Linked DNA regions of Homo sapiens: region 1 is linked to region 2. The links come from fine-mapping of genetic effects on gene expression. Tissue or cell type: whole blood. Region 2 holds a variant in brackets; the other region holds the start of a gene. All regions are shown on one strand. Distances are from middle to middle.

Region 1 (8,101 bases), 94 kb after region 2:
AGAGGTTGCAGTGAGCCGAGATCGTACGGCTACACTCTAGCCTGGGCGACAGAGCAGAACTCCATCTCGAAAATAAATAAATAAATAAATAATAAAAGAAAATGGGAATCAGGCTGCTGAATAATGTAATGAAATAGCCCAGAAAACAGCAGCTATCTCATTTTTGGTTTTGAGACAGGGTCTTGCTCTGCTACCCAGGCTGCAGTGCAGTGGTGCAATCTTGGCTCACTGCAACCTCCACCCCTCCAGTCTCAAGCGATCCTTCCACCTCAGCCTGTGGAGAAGCTGGGATTACAGGCATGCGTCACCATACCCGGTTAATTTTGTATTTTTGGTAGAGACAGGATTTTGCCATATTGGCCAGGCTGGTCTTGAACTCCTGAGCTCAAGTGATCTGTCCGCCTTGGCTTCCCAAAGTGCTGGGATTACCGGTGTGAGCCACCGGCCAACAGTAGCTATTTCTTTTTTTCTTTTCTTTTCTTTTTTTTTTTTTTTGAAACAGAGTTTCACTCTTGTTGCCCAGGCTGGAGTGCAATGGCACAATCTGGCTCACTGCAACATCTGCCTCCCAGGTTCAAGTGATTCTCCTGCCTCAGCCTCCTGACTAGCTGGGATTACAGGCATGCGCCACCGCACCTGGCTAATTTTGTATTTTTAGTAGGGACGGGGTTTCTCCATGTTGGTCAGGCTGGTCTCAAACTCCCGACCTCAGGTGATCCGCCCACCTCGGCCTCCCAAAGTGCTGGGATTATAGGCGTGAGCCACTGCGCCCAGCCAACAGTAGCTATTTCTTACCTCTCACCCTAGGGCTGTGGGAGGCCAGGCGGGGACTCCTGGGCAGATGTTGCCATCAAGAAGAACCAAAAGCCTGGGAGATGACTCTGTCTCAAAAAAAAAAAACAACAAAAAACGGTGTGGGGCAAAATCACCAGGGCTCATCCCCTAGACCAGAGCTATTTTGTTACTCAAGGCCACTAAGAAGTTAAGGGTTAACAGGCAAATCTCCCACTGACCTTGAATCTTGGATGAGTCACTTCCCCTCTCTGAGCCATCCCAGCCCTCCCCTCCTCCCTCTCTCTCACTCACTGTACTCCAGCCACTGGGGCCTCCTCACTGTTCTAACAGGCAGGGTGTGGTCCTGCCTCAGGGCCTTTGCACGGACTGTGCCTGCTGCCTGGAATGCTGTTCCCCCTAACTGGACATGGTTCCCTCCTGGCCTCTCTCTCTTCTCTTCTTGGATGTCACTCAGAAAGGCCTCCTCTGACCTCCCTACTAAAAACTGCGGCCCCACCGGGTGTGGTGGCTCATGCCTATAACCCAGCACCTTGAGAGGCCAGGGCTGGTGGATCACATGAGGTCAGGAGTTCGAGACCAGCCTGGCCAACATGGTGAAGCCCCGTCTCTACTAAAAAAAAAAAAAATACAAAAATTGGCCAGGCATGGTGGCACAGGCCTGTAATCCCAGCCACTTGGGAGGTCGAGGAACAAGAATTTCTTGAACCTGGGAGGCGGAGGTTGCAGTGAGCCGAGATCGTGCCACTGCACTCCAGCCTGGGTGACAGAGTGAGACTCTTTGACAAAAAACAAGAACAAAATCCCCGCATCCCCCACATTCATCTCGTCCTTTGCTGTCCTACCACGTGACACATTGTAAAGTTCTCTCACTTATGTTGTTCCTTGTTCGTCTCTCCCACTGGGTAGTGTGTGTCACCAGGGCTGGAATTCTTATCTGTTTAGCTCACCGCTGTCCCCAGCGCAAGGACTCAATAAATATGGTTGAATGAGTGAATGAGAAGGAAAAAGCCTGTTACAAATGTCATGGAATGGGGTCTCAGATTCACTTGAGAATCTCACTAGCTGCCTGAAGTTACTTAAATTTAAACATTCAGGCCAAGCGCGGTAGCTCACACCTGTAATCCCAGCACTTTAGGAGGCCGAGGCAGGTGGATCACTTGAGGCCAGGAGTTCGAGACCAGCCTGGCCAATATGGTTAGTCCTCGTCTCTACTAAAAATACAAAAATTAGCTGGGTGTGGTGGCGCGCGCCTGTAATCCCAGCTACTTGGGAGGCTGAGGCAGGAGAACCGCTTGAACCCGGGAGGTGGAGGTTGTAGTGAGTCGAGATCGCGCCATTGCACTCCAGCCTGGGAGACAGAGCGAGACTCTGCCTCAAAAAAAAAAAAAAAATTTAAACATTCAGCTTCTCACTGTGCATTAGCCACGTGGTGCTTTTGGCTACAATGTTGGATGGCACACAATTCTAGAATTGCAGAAAGTTCTATTGGACAGTGCTAGCATAGACCCTGTCCCCACTCACCCCCCCAAAAAAATGCAGTCACAGACACCCAATTTTTCCCATGTTCTTTCTAAAGCTACCAGAAGCTTCATTCTATTCAAATAATTTGGCAGAGGTGGCAAACTGGTGGCCCCTGGGCTGGACAAAGCCCCAGTTGGGTTTCATTTGGTCCAATTGTTCCCTAACAGGCAGGACATGTCTACAGCTTGAACTTCCTGTGGATCTGTGACTCTCCAGGTGGGTCTCCCATAGGGCACTGCTCTCCCCTGCCCCTCTAAGCAGGGCATCACTGCCACCTCCTCAGCAGAAATATTCACCTCCTCCCTGGACCATCTGAGATTGAGACCTTGGTTTATAGACCAAGAGGATAAATAATTTGGGAGGTGGAGAGGGGCGGGGTAAAATCCAAGTGGGGGCAGCTTCAGGAAAAGGTTGATCCAGCAGTCACAGAGCCTGGAGCCTGACCCCTCCATTGCCCCTGGCTGACCCTCTCCAGGCCTCAGTTTCCTTCTCTGCAAAATAGGGATGATTAAAAAGACAATACAGTGCTGGGAGGATGAAGTGGTCTGATGTTGGGCAGATCAGGCCGGAGGCTGGACAAGTTCCCGTGGTGGTTCAAGTCACTCATATAGCTGGGTTGGGCCGGGTGCGGTGGCTCATACCTGTGATCCCAGCAATTTGGGAGGCCCAAGCGGGCAGATCACTTGAGGTCAGGAGTTCAAGACCAACATGGTGAAACCCCGTCTCTGCTAAAAATACAAAAAATTAGCCGGGCGTGGTGGCACGTGTCTGTAATCCCAGCTACTCAGGAGGCTGAGGCAGGAGAATCGCTTGAATCCAGGAGGTGGAGGCTGCAGTGAGCCAAGGTCGCGTCACTGCACTCCAGCCTTAGCGACAGAGCGAGACTGTGTCTCAAAAAAAAAAAAAAAGTGTGTGTGTGTGTGTGTGTGTGTGTGTGTACATATAGCTGAGTCGGAGCCCATGGTGGAGGGCGTGGCCCCTGACGCGCTGGCGAGGGTCACCCTGCAACTCTCCCAGGGTTCTCGCAGCCTCAGTTTGGCCATAGGGGAAATGGGCGACCTGGGGAATCCCAGCACCTGTGCGGCGCCCCCGATCGCACTCACCTCCCAGGGCCAACTTCACAGGGTCCCCAGCTGCGGAGCGGGGGTCCCGTGGCTGGGACAGGCGTGGTCCAAGAGTGCTCCCTCCCCTTCAGGGGCAGGGCGTGGAGTCCTTCCCGGACTTCATGACTTGGCGAGGGGCGGGGCCTAGTGGAGGCGGGGCAGGGAGGAGAGGGGCGGGCCTGGCGCGGGCAATCCCTCAACCTGATTGGTCCCCTCGCCCGTCACTCCAGTGCGCCCCCAACCTACCACGCAGTAAAAGCCACCCCCGCCTCGGCCCGGACGGTTTCCAAGCTGGTTTTGAAGTCGCGGCAGCTGTTCCTGGGACGTCCGGTTGACCGCGGTGAGTGGCGGGGGCGTCTCAGTTGAGCTGGGGGGCGGTGTCCATGGAGTCCTGGGGCACCCCAGGGGCCGGAGGGGTCGGGGAGGGCCTTTCTCGGGGTGGGATTTGCTGGACTCTGCGGCCTGGGGAGGGGTCTTCAGCCCAGGCTGGTCACCCCTCCCCCCAGAAAAATCCAACTTCTGCAACGAAGCTCAGACTTTGAAACCCTCTTCTCACTTCCTGGGACTTTTGAGGGGCGAAAGAGCCCCGTAGAAGGGGTGATATTGAAGGGGGTGGGCTAAATACCGCCCCCCGCCCACCAGGTTTTCTCTAAATTTTGAACAGTTTGCTTTTGGAAACGCCATTTGCAGGCAAGTTTCCTCCTGCGGGCAGAATCTCCGCCCTCCCTTCTGGGGTTTTCAGAGACACCCCCCGCCACCGCAAAGCCCCCTCCCCTACAGATGGTTTTGCCACGGGTGGGGGTGGGGGTTGCCCCAGCTCCTGGCGCCCCCAACTGATTCTGGGGAGGTCTTGGGCAAAGCCTGCCCACTTCCCTCGGGTGGGCGTGGCGACGAGGTGGCTTAAAAGTAGGAAGGCCTATCCGTTAACTGCTTTGGGGTTCTTGTCCCGGCTAGGCCTGGCAGTGGGACCTGGGGCCCTTGGAATTTTGGAAGTCCAGTCTTAGCATGCTCTGAAGTTGCTGGATGGCTGGGTCTGGCCTGGAGCTCCCCTTCTGGAGCCAGCGGCAAGGCAGGTCACTGACCCCCAGGGGTTTCATAGGGTGTTGACATCTGCCATGGCCACCCTTGCTTAAACCAGTTCCAGGAAGTCATGGTGGACAGAGGGGACGGGAGGAAGCTGCCTGAGTCCTAAGTGGGACTTGAGAATCGGTCGAGGCCAGGAGTTTGATGCCTGCCTACCTGGCCCCCTGCCCAGGTGAGCTCAGGCTCCAAAGGAGGTGAGGAGAAGCACAGATTTAGGCAATGATCACTGGGAGGTAGGTATGTCTTCTCACCTGACTTCCCAGTTGGGGGACTTTTGTACCTAGCAGGAAGCTGGTTCCTGGCTGGCTTTACCCCTTTGTCCGTGGAAGCCAGAGTGCGGTGAGATAGTTTATGGAGCACTTACTATGTGCCGGGCACGGATCTGAGCTTCCCCGGAGCAGCGTCTCCTCCAGTCCACAGGGACTCCAGGCTCTTGTGAAACACTTATACACATTTCACAGATGTGGCAAGCAAGACTCCTAGGGGATGCTGCCTTCCCAAACTCCTATTCCTAGTGAGTTGCCAAGCTGGGATTAGAACCCATTCTGGGCTGGGCAGGATGACTCACGCCTATAATCCCAGCACTTTGGGAGGCTGAGGTGGGCGGATCATTTGAGGTCAGGAGTTGGAGAACAGCCTGGCCAACATGGTGAAACCCCACCTCTACTAAAAATATAAAAATTAGCCGGACGTGGTGGCGGGCACCTGTATTCCCAGATACTCTGGAGGCTGAGGCAGGAGAATCGCTTGAACCTGGGAGATGGAGGTTACACTGAACTGAGATCACGCCACTGCATTCCAGCCTGGGCGACAGAGCAAGACTCTGTCTCAAAAAAAAAAAAAGGCCGGGCATGGTGGCTCACGCCTGTAATCCCAGCATTTTCGGAGGCCGAGGCGGGCGGATCATGAGGTCAGGAGATCGAGACGATCCTGGCTAACATGGTGAAATCCCATCTCTACTAAAAATACAAACAATTAGCCAGGCGTGGTGGCGGGCGCCTGTGGTCCCAGCTACTCGGGAGGCTGAGGCAGGAGAATGGCGTGAACCGGGGAGGCAGAGCTTGCAGTGAGCTGAGATCGCGCCACTGCACTCCAGCGTGGGCGACAGGGCGAGACTCCGTCTCAAAAAAAAAAACAAAAAAAAAAAAATGGAAAGAACCCAATCTGGACTCCAGATCTAGTGCTTGCAAAACATCATCATTTTGCTGGGTTCTGCTTAGGGGACATCGAAGCAAGGCCACCAGGAGGTGGGGCCTCATTCCTCTGGGAAAAGATGCTCAGACTCAAGGCCACAGGTTCTTAGGCTCACACCAGAATTCCCCAGGAAAGCAGCCCATAAGACAGGCATGACCTTTAGCCCCATGTTTTTTTTTTTTTGAAACGGAGTCTCCCTCTGTCACCCGGGCTGGAGTGCAGTGGTGCGATCTCGACTCACTGCAACCTCCACCTCCCAGGTTCAAGCAATTCTCCTGCCTCAGCCTCCTGTGTAGCTGGGACTACAGGTGTCAGCCAAAATACACGGCTAATTTTTGTATTTTTAGTAGAGATGGGGTTTCACCATGTTGGTCAGGCTGGTCTCAAACTCCCGACCTTAGGTGATCTGCCCGCCTCAGCCTCCCAAAGTGCTGGGATTACAGGCGTGAGCTACCATGCCTGGCTTTTTCTTTTTTCTTTGAGATGGAGTCTTCCTCTGTCACCCAGGCTGGAGTGTAGTGGCGCAGTCTTGGCTTACTGCAACCTCCGCCTCCCAGGTTGAAGCAATTCCCCTGCCTCAGTCTCCCAAGTAGCTGGGACTACAGGCGCCCGCCACCACACCCGCACCTAATTTTTGTATTTTTAGTAGAGACAGTGTTTCAGTATGTTGGCCAGGCTGCTCTTGAACTCCTGACCTCATGATCCACCCACCTCAGCCTCCCAGCGTGCTGGGATTACAGGTGTGAGCCACCATGCCCGACCCTTTAGCCTCATATTACAGGTAAGATGACCGAGGCCAGAGGAGGGGAAGGCGCCTTGCTCCAGGGAGCATAGCGTAGGTGGAGCTGGGACTCCTGGCTTCCCCCTGAGAATCTCTTCTGATGATGGTGTCCCAGCTTCATTTCACTAGTCCAGGAAAAGGGAGTTGTGGCTTCATCCCGCTTACATAGACTCACCTGGGGAACCCCGTCCTCCCCACACCCCTGACCTGGACTTCATAGCTCTGCGGTGCAGGCAGGCATGTTATCTCACTTTTTAAAAAAAGCCTAAATTTTGGCTGGGTGCGGTGGCTCACAGCTGTAATCCTAGCAGTTTGGGAGGCCAAGGTGGGCAGATCCCTTGAGCTCAGGAGTTCAAGACCAACCTGGGCAACATGGCAAAACCCCATCTACTAAAAAACAAACAAACAAAACAACAACAACAACAAAAAAAAAAACAAACCACGGCTGAGTGCAGTGACTCATCCTGTAATCCCAGCACTTTGGGAGGCTGAGGCGGGTGGATCACGAGGTCAGGTGTTCAAGACCAGCCTGACCAACATAGTGAAACCCCATCTCTACTAAAAATACAAAAAATTAGCCAGACGTGGTGCACACCTGTAATCCCAGCTACTCAGGAGGCTGAGGCAGGAGAATCGCTTGAACCCAGAAGGCGGAGGTTACAGTGAGCCGAAATCACGCCACTGCACCCCAGCCTGGATGACAGAGCAAGACTCCCTGTCCAAAAAAAAAAAACAAAACCACACACACACACACACACACACACACACACACACACACACACACACACACACTAGCCAGGTGTGGTGGTGCGTGCCTGTAGTCCCAGCTACTTGCAGGGTCAAGGTGGGAGAATTGCTTGAGCGTAGGAGACAGAGGTTGCAGTGAGCCAAGATCGCACCACTACACTGCAGCCTGGGCGACAGAGCGGAAATCCGTCTCAAGAAAGAGAAGAAAGTTTGCCCTATTTAACACATTTTATCCCTTGACTAGATCTTTGTTCATGTCATGTCAGTTACATTTAGTCTTTTGTTTGTTTTGTTTTGTTTTCTTTTTTTTTTTTTTGAGATGGAGTCTCGCTCTGTCACCCAGGCTGGAGTGCAGTGGTGCAATACCAGGTCACTGCAACCTCCACCTCCTGGGTTCAAGCGATTCTCCTGCCTCAGCCTCCTGAGTAGCTGGGATAACTAAACATGGAGGCGTGCACCACCACGCCTGGCTAATTTTTGTATTTTTAGTAGAGACGGGGTTTTGCCATGTTGGCCAGGCTGGTCTCCACCTCCTGACCTCAGGTGATCCTCCTGCCTCGGCCTCCCAAAGTGCTGGGATTAGAGGTGTGACCCACCACATCTGGCCCATGTGAGTTACATTTAAATCTCTTTTTTTTTTTTTTTTGAGACAGAGTTTCGCTCCTGTTGCCCAGGCTGGAGTGCAGCGGCGCGATCTCGGCTCACTGCAACTTCCGCTTCCCGGGTTCAAGTAACTCTCCTGCCTCAGCCTCCTGAATAGCTGGGATTACAGGCATTCGCCACCATGCCTGGCTAATTTTATATTTTTAGTAGAGATGGGGTTTCTCCATGTTGGTCAGGCTGGTCTCGAACTCCTGACCTCAGGTGATCCACCCGC
Region 2 (8,084 bases):
GGGGGAGGGACACAGGGCAAGACTGCGGAAGGGTGTGAGGTTTCTTTTTGTGTGGATGTTAAAGTTCTGTAATTAGATGGTGGTGATGGCTGCATAACTGTATTGACTATACTAAAACCACTAAGCTGGCCAGGCATGGTGGCTCACACCAGTAATCCCAACACTTTGGGAGGCCGAGGCGAGTGGATCACCTGAGGTCGGGAGTTCGAGACCAGCCTGACCAACATGGTGAAACCCTGTCTCTACTAAAAATATGAAAATTAGGCGGGCATGGTGGTGCATGCCTGTAATCCCAGCTACTTGGGAGGCCGAGGCAGAAGAATCACTTGAACTCGGGAGGGGGAGGTTGCAGTAAGCAGAGATCTTGCCACTGCACTCCAGCCTGGGCCACAGAGCGAGACTGTCTCAAAAACAACACAGTAAAATAAAACCACTGAACTGTATGCTTTAAAAGGGTGACCTTTATATTACCTGAACTGTTATCTCCATAGAGCTGTTAAAGATTTTTAGGGTGGGCATGGTAGTTCACATCTGTAATCCCAGCACTTTGGGAGACCCAGACAGGAAGATGGCTTGAGACCAGGAGTTCCAGACCAGCCTGGGCAACAAAGTGAGACTTCTCTCTACTAAAATATATATCTCTCTCTTTAAAAAAGTAGCCAGGCATGGTGGTTTGCACCTGTAGTAGTCCCAGCTACTCAGGAGGCTGAGGCAGGAGGATTGCTTGCGCATGGGAGTTTGAGGCTGCAGTGAGCTATGATGACACCACCACTGTACTCCAGCCTGGGTGACAAAGTGAGATCTTGAATCAAAGACTTTTTTTTTTTTTTTTTTTTTTTTGAGACAGAGTCTCGCTCTGTTGCCCAGGCTGGAGTGCAGTGGTGTGATCTCGGCTCACTGCAAACTCCACCTCCTGGGTTCAAGCGATTCTCCTGTCTCAGCCTCCCAAGTAGCTGGGATTGCAGGTTCATACCATCATGCCCAGCTTATTTTTGTATTTTTAGTAGAGATGGGGTTTCACCATGTTGGACAGGCTGGTCTCAAACTCCTGACCTCAGGTGATCCGCCCACCTCAGCCTCCTAAAGTGCTGCGATTACAGGTGTGAGCCATCGCACCCGGCCAAAGAAATTTTTTTAAGTGAACCAGGAAAGAAATATGCCCAAGATTAGAGTCGGTGGCAAAACAGTTCCACAAATACTTTTCTGGGTTTTGCTCATTTTTTTAAACATGACATTGTTCTTTAAAGGGAGAGAAAAATCAAAAAGAAGGCAGCAATCTCAACAATGAACCCACTTTAGTGTTTTCTAGGAAGGGCCCACTGGGGACATTTATGGAGTTTCCTTCAAGAACTGGGAATCTTATCTTCACGTTCACACTTGACATATTTCTGGTATAATCCACATACCATACAATTCACCCACTTAAAGTGCACAATTCTGGCCGGGCGCGGTGGCTCACGCCTGTAATCCCAGCACTTTGGGAGGCCGAGGGGGGCGGATCACGAGGTCAGGAGATCGAGACCATCCCGGCTAACACGGTGAAACCCTGTCTTTACTAAAAATACAAAAAAATTAGCCGGGTGTGGTGGCGGGCACCTGTAGTCCCAGCTACTTGGGAGGCTGAGGCAGAAGAATGGCGTGAACCCGGGAGGCGGAGCTTGCAGTGAGCCGAGATCACGCCACTGCACTCCAGCCTGGGCAACAGAGCAAGACTCCGTCTCAAAAAAAAAAAAAGGAAAAAATAAAAATAAAAAATAAAGTGCACAATTCTGTGGATTTTAGTATATCCACAGACATGTGCAACCATCAATTTTAGAACATTTTTACCACCTCAAAAAGAAACTCCAGGCTGCACGTGGTGGCTCACGTCTGTAATCCCAGCACTTTGGGAGGCTGAGATGGGAGGATCGCCTAATCACAGGAGTTGGAGACCAGCCTGGGCAACAGAATGAGATCCCGTCTCTCCAAAAAAAAAAAAAAAAAAATTAAATTTGCCAGTTATGGTGCTGCATGCCTGTGGTACCAGCTACTCGGGAGGCTGAGATGGGAGGATCACTTGAGCCCAGGAGTTGGAGGCTGCAATGAGCTGTGATCACACCATTGCACTCCAGCCTGGACAACAGGGCAAGACTGTCTCAAAAACAAAACAAATCTGCCCATATGGTTACTTAACCATCAATAAAAGGCACCAGTAATAGGTTGATGTGAATTAATTAATCTGCAAGACGCAGCCCCTTTACCGTCCCGATTTTTTTTTTTTAAAACGTTTTTAAAGACAGCATCTCATTCTGTTGCCCAGGCTGGAGTACCGTGGTGCAATCAAAGTTCACTGCAGCCTCTAGCTCTGGGGCTCAAGCAATCAGCCTCCTGCCTCAACCTCCTGAGTAGCTGGGACTACAGAAACACACCACCACACCTGGCTAATATTTTTATTTATTTGTAGAGTTGGGGTCTACAGGCTGGTCTCAGACTCCTACACTCAAGTCATCCTCCCAAGAGAAGAGACCAGCAAGCTTTGCTGGCCAGGCAGTGAGTATTTTTCAGCTTTGTGGTCCAGATGGTTTCTGCTGTACCTACTCAGTTCTGCTGATGGTAGCGTAAACGCCACTATATACATAAAGAAATGGGTGTGGTGGTGTCAATAAAACTTTATTTACAGACAGGCAGTGTCCTGACTTGGGTCCCATTGGCTGTCGTTTGCTGACCCCTGCAACTTGACGCTGCAAAGTGAACAGCCCAGCACCTCCCAGGCTGCGGTTAGGACCTCAGCCCGTCACCGTCATCTCCTGGGTCTCAGTTTTCTCATCTGTAAAGTGGGGCTGAAGCCACCTGCCTCATGTTTCTCCTGGGATTTTTGTAAAATAGTGCACAAAAGTAGACAGAAAGCTCCAAAGGCAGTTTGCAAATAGGAAGACACAATCAAGTCTATCTGTGAAAAACATTTATTCTGAGAATCTAAAATCTGGACAAAGTACTGGACTTTAGAAAAAGCCTACACAAAATTGTCTCATTCTTCCCTAATACATTAATAATCTAAGAATAAGGAGGTGAAAAAAACCCTTTAAAAATAACATTGCTCCAGTTTGTCTGCAGGTATGTGATTTAAAATATCCCTGTTTTATTGAGGTATAGGCTGCAAACTTTGGTAAAATTAGAAAAATTAACAAACCCTTTCAAAAGAAAAAAAATACAAAAACAAAAACAACCAAACCCTAACGTTATATCTTTCTTGGTACATATACAGTAACTACAAAAAAAATTCATTTAGAAAATGTGTTCATTAAGAGAAAAAAAAATTTTAAAAAAACCCTCTTGTAAGTTCTCACTTGCTGAGTTAAAAAAATTGAATGTAAATGATCTATAAGGCTCAAACGGTTCCCAAGCACCCATCCGGTGTCAGGAAGAACTGGATGACCGCAGTTTCTAGAATCTGGTTGACATTTTCAATAATTCAGTGCTAACAACAAAGACTGTCGTCTTTAGAAAGAAGGAACGAATCAAAGGCACTTGCACGTGACTTCGTGTGCTGGCGTCCGTCCGTGGCCGCCTTCGTCGGACAGCGTCAGTCACACGCCTGGCCCCACGTGGAGCAGAGTCCCCTTGAGGCCATTTCTGCGTGGCCCCAACTCCCTGCTCTCGTGGGCAGAGGACTTTTCACGCGGATCTCAGACGCTAAGCAGTCTGGTGGGGGATGGCTTTGAGGCAAAGGTTTGAACTAGGCCCGAGATGTTTCCTCTTTTCCTTGCAACAACTTCAACAGACAGCTGAGCCACGCCATGCCACGGGCTGCCACGGGCCACCACGGGGAACCATGTCACTGGACTTTAGATGACAAAATGCTGTCAGGAAGATGCTTGCTCTGACCTTGGGGGCCAGAACCCGAGAGAAGGACTGATCCTGTCGCCTTCTTAAAGAGTTGGTGGCAGCAACTTCTGAGAACTTGACACCAGAAACATCAACAGCCTCCACACCACGTAGTTTCTGATTCCATCTTTAAAAAATCTTGTGTTGTTTTGTCGAGAAATTGCAGGCTTTTATGTTTTCAAAGAACTAAACACAATACTGAGAAGTCCAACTTTTAGCCAGAATACATAAATTCCTGAAAATGTATAGATTTGAAAAATAAAAATAAAAAAAAAAAGGAAGACAAACCTTTTTAGGGAACGGAGGAAACACTACCTGTTTAAGTTAAGCCCACTAAGAACAAAATCAGTGCCGATGAACGAGCCCTCCGACACGTTTTCAGCAAAACGCCTGTCGAGAAGTGCTTGGAGATCACCGGCCATTGCCGTAGCCGGGGAAGAGCTGGTTGAGGACGGTCTGCAGAGGCTGGTTCACCTGCATGGCATAGCTGCGGCCCAGGTCGTAGCGGCAGGCAGGGCAGCTGAACACCTGTGCCCGAAAGGATCTGTCCAGGCAGTCCTGTAAGACACAGCAGGCGCGTGAGAAGTGCCATCCACACCATCAGGTTTGCTCCTGGCCACCTCTCCCAGGACTGTGGGGA[CAG/G]TCTCACCAGGTCCAGAGGCCCCTCTGACCTTCAGTCTCACTTTCCACCTGCTGCCCATCACCAGCCTGGCCCCCCTAGGGGCCCTCAAAGATTCCAAGCTCACCCGGCCTCCAGGCTTTTGTCCCTGGCAGGTCATGCAGCTTAACAGCTCGGTCCCCCGGCTCTCATCACTCACAGCTCAGCTCAAGTCACCTCCCTTATGGGGCCTTCCCTGACACCTCCCTAGAGGCAGTCCCATCCCCTCACCCCATCTGCCTTCAAGACGGCACCTCTCCTTCCACCTGTGGAGCCGTGTTATATATTATTAATGTGCTTATCTTATCTACAACAGGGCAGATGCTCCCTGAGCTTTGAGGCTGTGTTCTCTCTCAACACCAAGCACAGTGTATACAGTAGATGCTTAATAAACACACACATCAGGCCAAGCATCGTGGCTCATGCCTGTAATCCCAGCACTCTGGGAGGCCGAGGGGGGCAGATCACTTGAGGTCAGGAGTTCAAGACCAGCCTGGCCAACATGGTGAAACCCTGTCTCTACTAAAAATACAAAAATTAGCCAGGCACATGCCTGTAATCCCAGCTACCTGGGAGGCTAAGGCAAGAGAATGGCTTGAACCCGGGAGGCGGAGGTTGCAGTGAGCTGAGATCACGCCATTGCACTCCAGCCTGGGTGACAGGGCAAGACTCTGCGTCTCAAAGAAAAAACAAAAACAAAAAAATTAGCCGGGCGTGGCTACTCCGGAGGCTGAAGTGGGAGGATCACCTGAACCCAGGGAGGCAGGCTGAGGCTGCAGTGAGCCATGATCACGCCATTGCACTCCAGCCTGAGCGACAAAGCAAGACCTTGTCTCGAAAAAAATAAAAAATAAACATACACGTCAATGAGAAGAAAGGGGAAAAGGAGGAAGGAACCAAGTCTGGTGGATTCAGATTCCTAACTTCAAGCTCAATCAACCAAGTCGTGCCTGGGGAAGAAAGCCAGGAGAAGACAGAGCTGAGAGGCCTGGAGTCTCCACTTCCCAAGCAGACAAACAGGGAAGATGCCACCGGGCTGGCTGCACGCCAGGGAGGAGTGACACGCCGTACACAGGTGCACAGATGCCTACGCAGGGGGCACATGTCTGCAGCATGTCGTCACACAGCTGGGCGAGGGCGGTGACCACATGGGGGAGAGGCCTGGTGACCACAGCACAGTCACCTGCCCCAGGCAGCCTGTGGCTTTTGTTTTTGTTGTTTTTTTTTAAGATAGAGTCTCGCTCTGTCGCCCAGGCTGGAGTGCAGTGGCGTGATCTTGGCTCACTGCAACCTCCACCTCCCGGGTTCAAGGGATTCTCGTGTCTCAGCCTCCTGAGTAGCTGGGATTACAGGCGCCCACCAGCACACCTGGCTAATTTTTGTATTTTTAGTAGAGACAGGGTTTCATCATGTTGGCCATGGTGGTGTATGCCTGTAGCCCCAGCTACTCAGGAGGCTAAGGCAGGAGGATCTCTTTAGCCCCGCGAGGAGTTCAAGGCTGCGATGAGCTATGATGGCACCACTGCACTCCAGCCTGGGCGACAGAGTGAGATGCTGTCTCTGAATGTTTTTTTCAATTTTTTTTTTTTTTTTTTGAGACAGAATCTTGCTCTGACGCCCAGGCTGGAGTACAATGGCGCGATCTCAGCTCACCGCAACCTGTACCTCCCAGGTTCAAGCGATTCTACCACCTCAGTCTCCTGAGTAGCACCTGTCACCTCACCCAGCTAATTTTGTTTTAATTTTTAGTAGAGATGGGGTTTCACCATGTTGCCCGGGCTGGTCTCAAACTCCTGACCTCAAGTGATCCTCCCACCTCAGCCTCCCCAAGTGCTGGGATTACAGGCATTAGCCACCACGGCTGGCCTCAAGTTTATAATTTAAAAAGATCAAGGTGGAAGGTCACAGCCTGTTTCCCAGAACCCCTCCGATGCTGAGCTTCCCAAGTTGGAACAGAGCAACAAGGACAGATTGTGGGGACACCGTGATGCTGGTTAGCCCCTTCCTTCACATCCTCAGCGCTTCCGCGCCTTCACACCGATGCACAGGACAGATGGTTTCCAATGTCCCCACAGTCCTTCCTACCGCCACGGGGCTCCCAGGCCTCCCTCTTCCAATAGCCCCCCACAGCCAGCCCTCTGCCTGTGCCCACCTCCTGAGCACCTCCTTCCTGCCAGAGGCTAAGCCGGGACCTTCACAACAACCTGGCATCCAGGACAGTGTTACCAGGCCCCTTCTCACTGTGGCCAACTGAGGCTTGGAGGGATTAGTGCCTGCACGCCTGAGAGGTGACAGATGGCCAGACCCGGACCACCAGCCCCAAAGACACCATGGCCTCTCACCCCTTCTGCCACCTCACTCAGGGCACTCAGGGAGGCCCACACAGCTGAAGGGACTCAGGCCACAGGGCGAGGCAGGTGGGGCCCGAGGAGGCAGAGATGCCATGGGCATGACTGGGAACACCCCATCTCCTGACCTTCCCTGAGCTGCCTCCTGGCATGAAAACAAACACGGGGTCTGAGACCCGGGGGTGTGGCCCATGGCTGAGAGGACTGCGGGACTGCAGTTGGAAGGAAAACCGCCAGCAACTCAGAAGCCTGGGGAGATCCGTGGGGTGGCAGGGTCAGTCCCTTCCACACCTGTCCACCGGGACTGCCGGCTCTGGCCAGAGGTTGCAGCAGAGAAACCATCACCCAGACCCACACTGCCCACCTGGGCAGTTCTGCCCCCAGGGGACACTGGAAGGTGTCTGGGGATGTCTGTGATTGTCTCGACTAGGCAGGGAGCTCCTGGCATGGAGTGGGTGGGGGCCGGGGATGCTGCTCAGCACCCTGCAGTGCCCAGGACGGCCCCACCCCAGACAATGATCCAGCCCCAAGGCCCACAGCACAGGGGGGAAGAGACCCTGTCCTGGCCCCAAACCAATCGGTTTGAAAACCATCAGCTGCGGGGTGGGCGCGGTGGCTTACACCTGTAATCCCAGCACTTTGGGAGGCCAAGGCGGGTGGATGACAAGGTCAGGAGATCGAAACCATCCTGGCTAACACGGTGAAACCCCATCTCTACTAAAAATACAAAAAATTAGCCGGGCACGGTGGCGGGCGCCTGTAGTCCCAGCTACTCGGGAGGCTGAGGTGGGAGAATGGCGTGAACCCGGGAGGCAGAGCTTGCAGTGAGTGGAGACTGCGCCACTGCACTCCAGCATGGGCAACAGAGCGAGACTCTGTCTCAGAAAAAAAAAAAAAAAAAAAAAAAAAAACCATCAGCTGGGATCTTGTGTCCCTCCTACGACTGACCACTTGTCCTGAGTTTAAAGCCCATGGCAGGCCACCACCCCAGTGCCCAGAGCCACTGCAGGCCCCAGCTGCTGACTTCCCACCCAGGCTTCTTCACCTGCTGTCCCAGGTACAAGGGATGCTGCCTGGTAACACCACCTCCTCCAAGAAGCCTTCTTTCCTGACCCCTAGGGGATGTGCACCTCCTCTCCAGACCTTAGGCCAAGACTGTGGCCCATCCTCTCCCACCCTGGCCCCTTGACCATACAGGACTTGGGGGAGAATGT

What was found. PIP is the estimated chance that this variant, and not a neighbour inherited with it, causes the effect.
Region 1: it holds the start of PLIN3, and the variant in region 2 is fine-mapped to the expression of PLIN3 in whole blood (INTERVAL, PIP 0.99).

Annotation. Positions count from the first base shown.
Region 1 is chr19:4,863,267-4,871,367 of GRCh38, reverse strand. It overlaps PLIN3 (perilipin 3), which reads left to right and starts at 3,701. Exons shown (of 8, transcript NM_005817.5): 1 at 3,701-3,759. RefSeq lists silencers at 1,000-1,079, 956-1,120, 3,544-3,723, a cis regulatory region at 801-1,287 and enhancers at 3,941-4,441, 4,384-4,733.
Region 2 is chr19:4,956,995-4,965,078 of GRCh38, reverse strand. UHRF1 (ubiquitin like with PHD and ring finger domains 1) reads right to left here. Exons shown (of 17, transcript NM_001048201.3): 17 at 2,925-4,422. The coding sequence ends at 4,276. Among named protein-coding and RNA genes, the nearest start is that of KDM4B, 8.1 kb to the left of the region's middle. The variant CAG/G (reference allele first, on the strand shown) is at 4,505.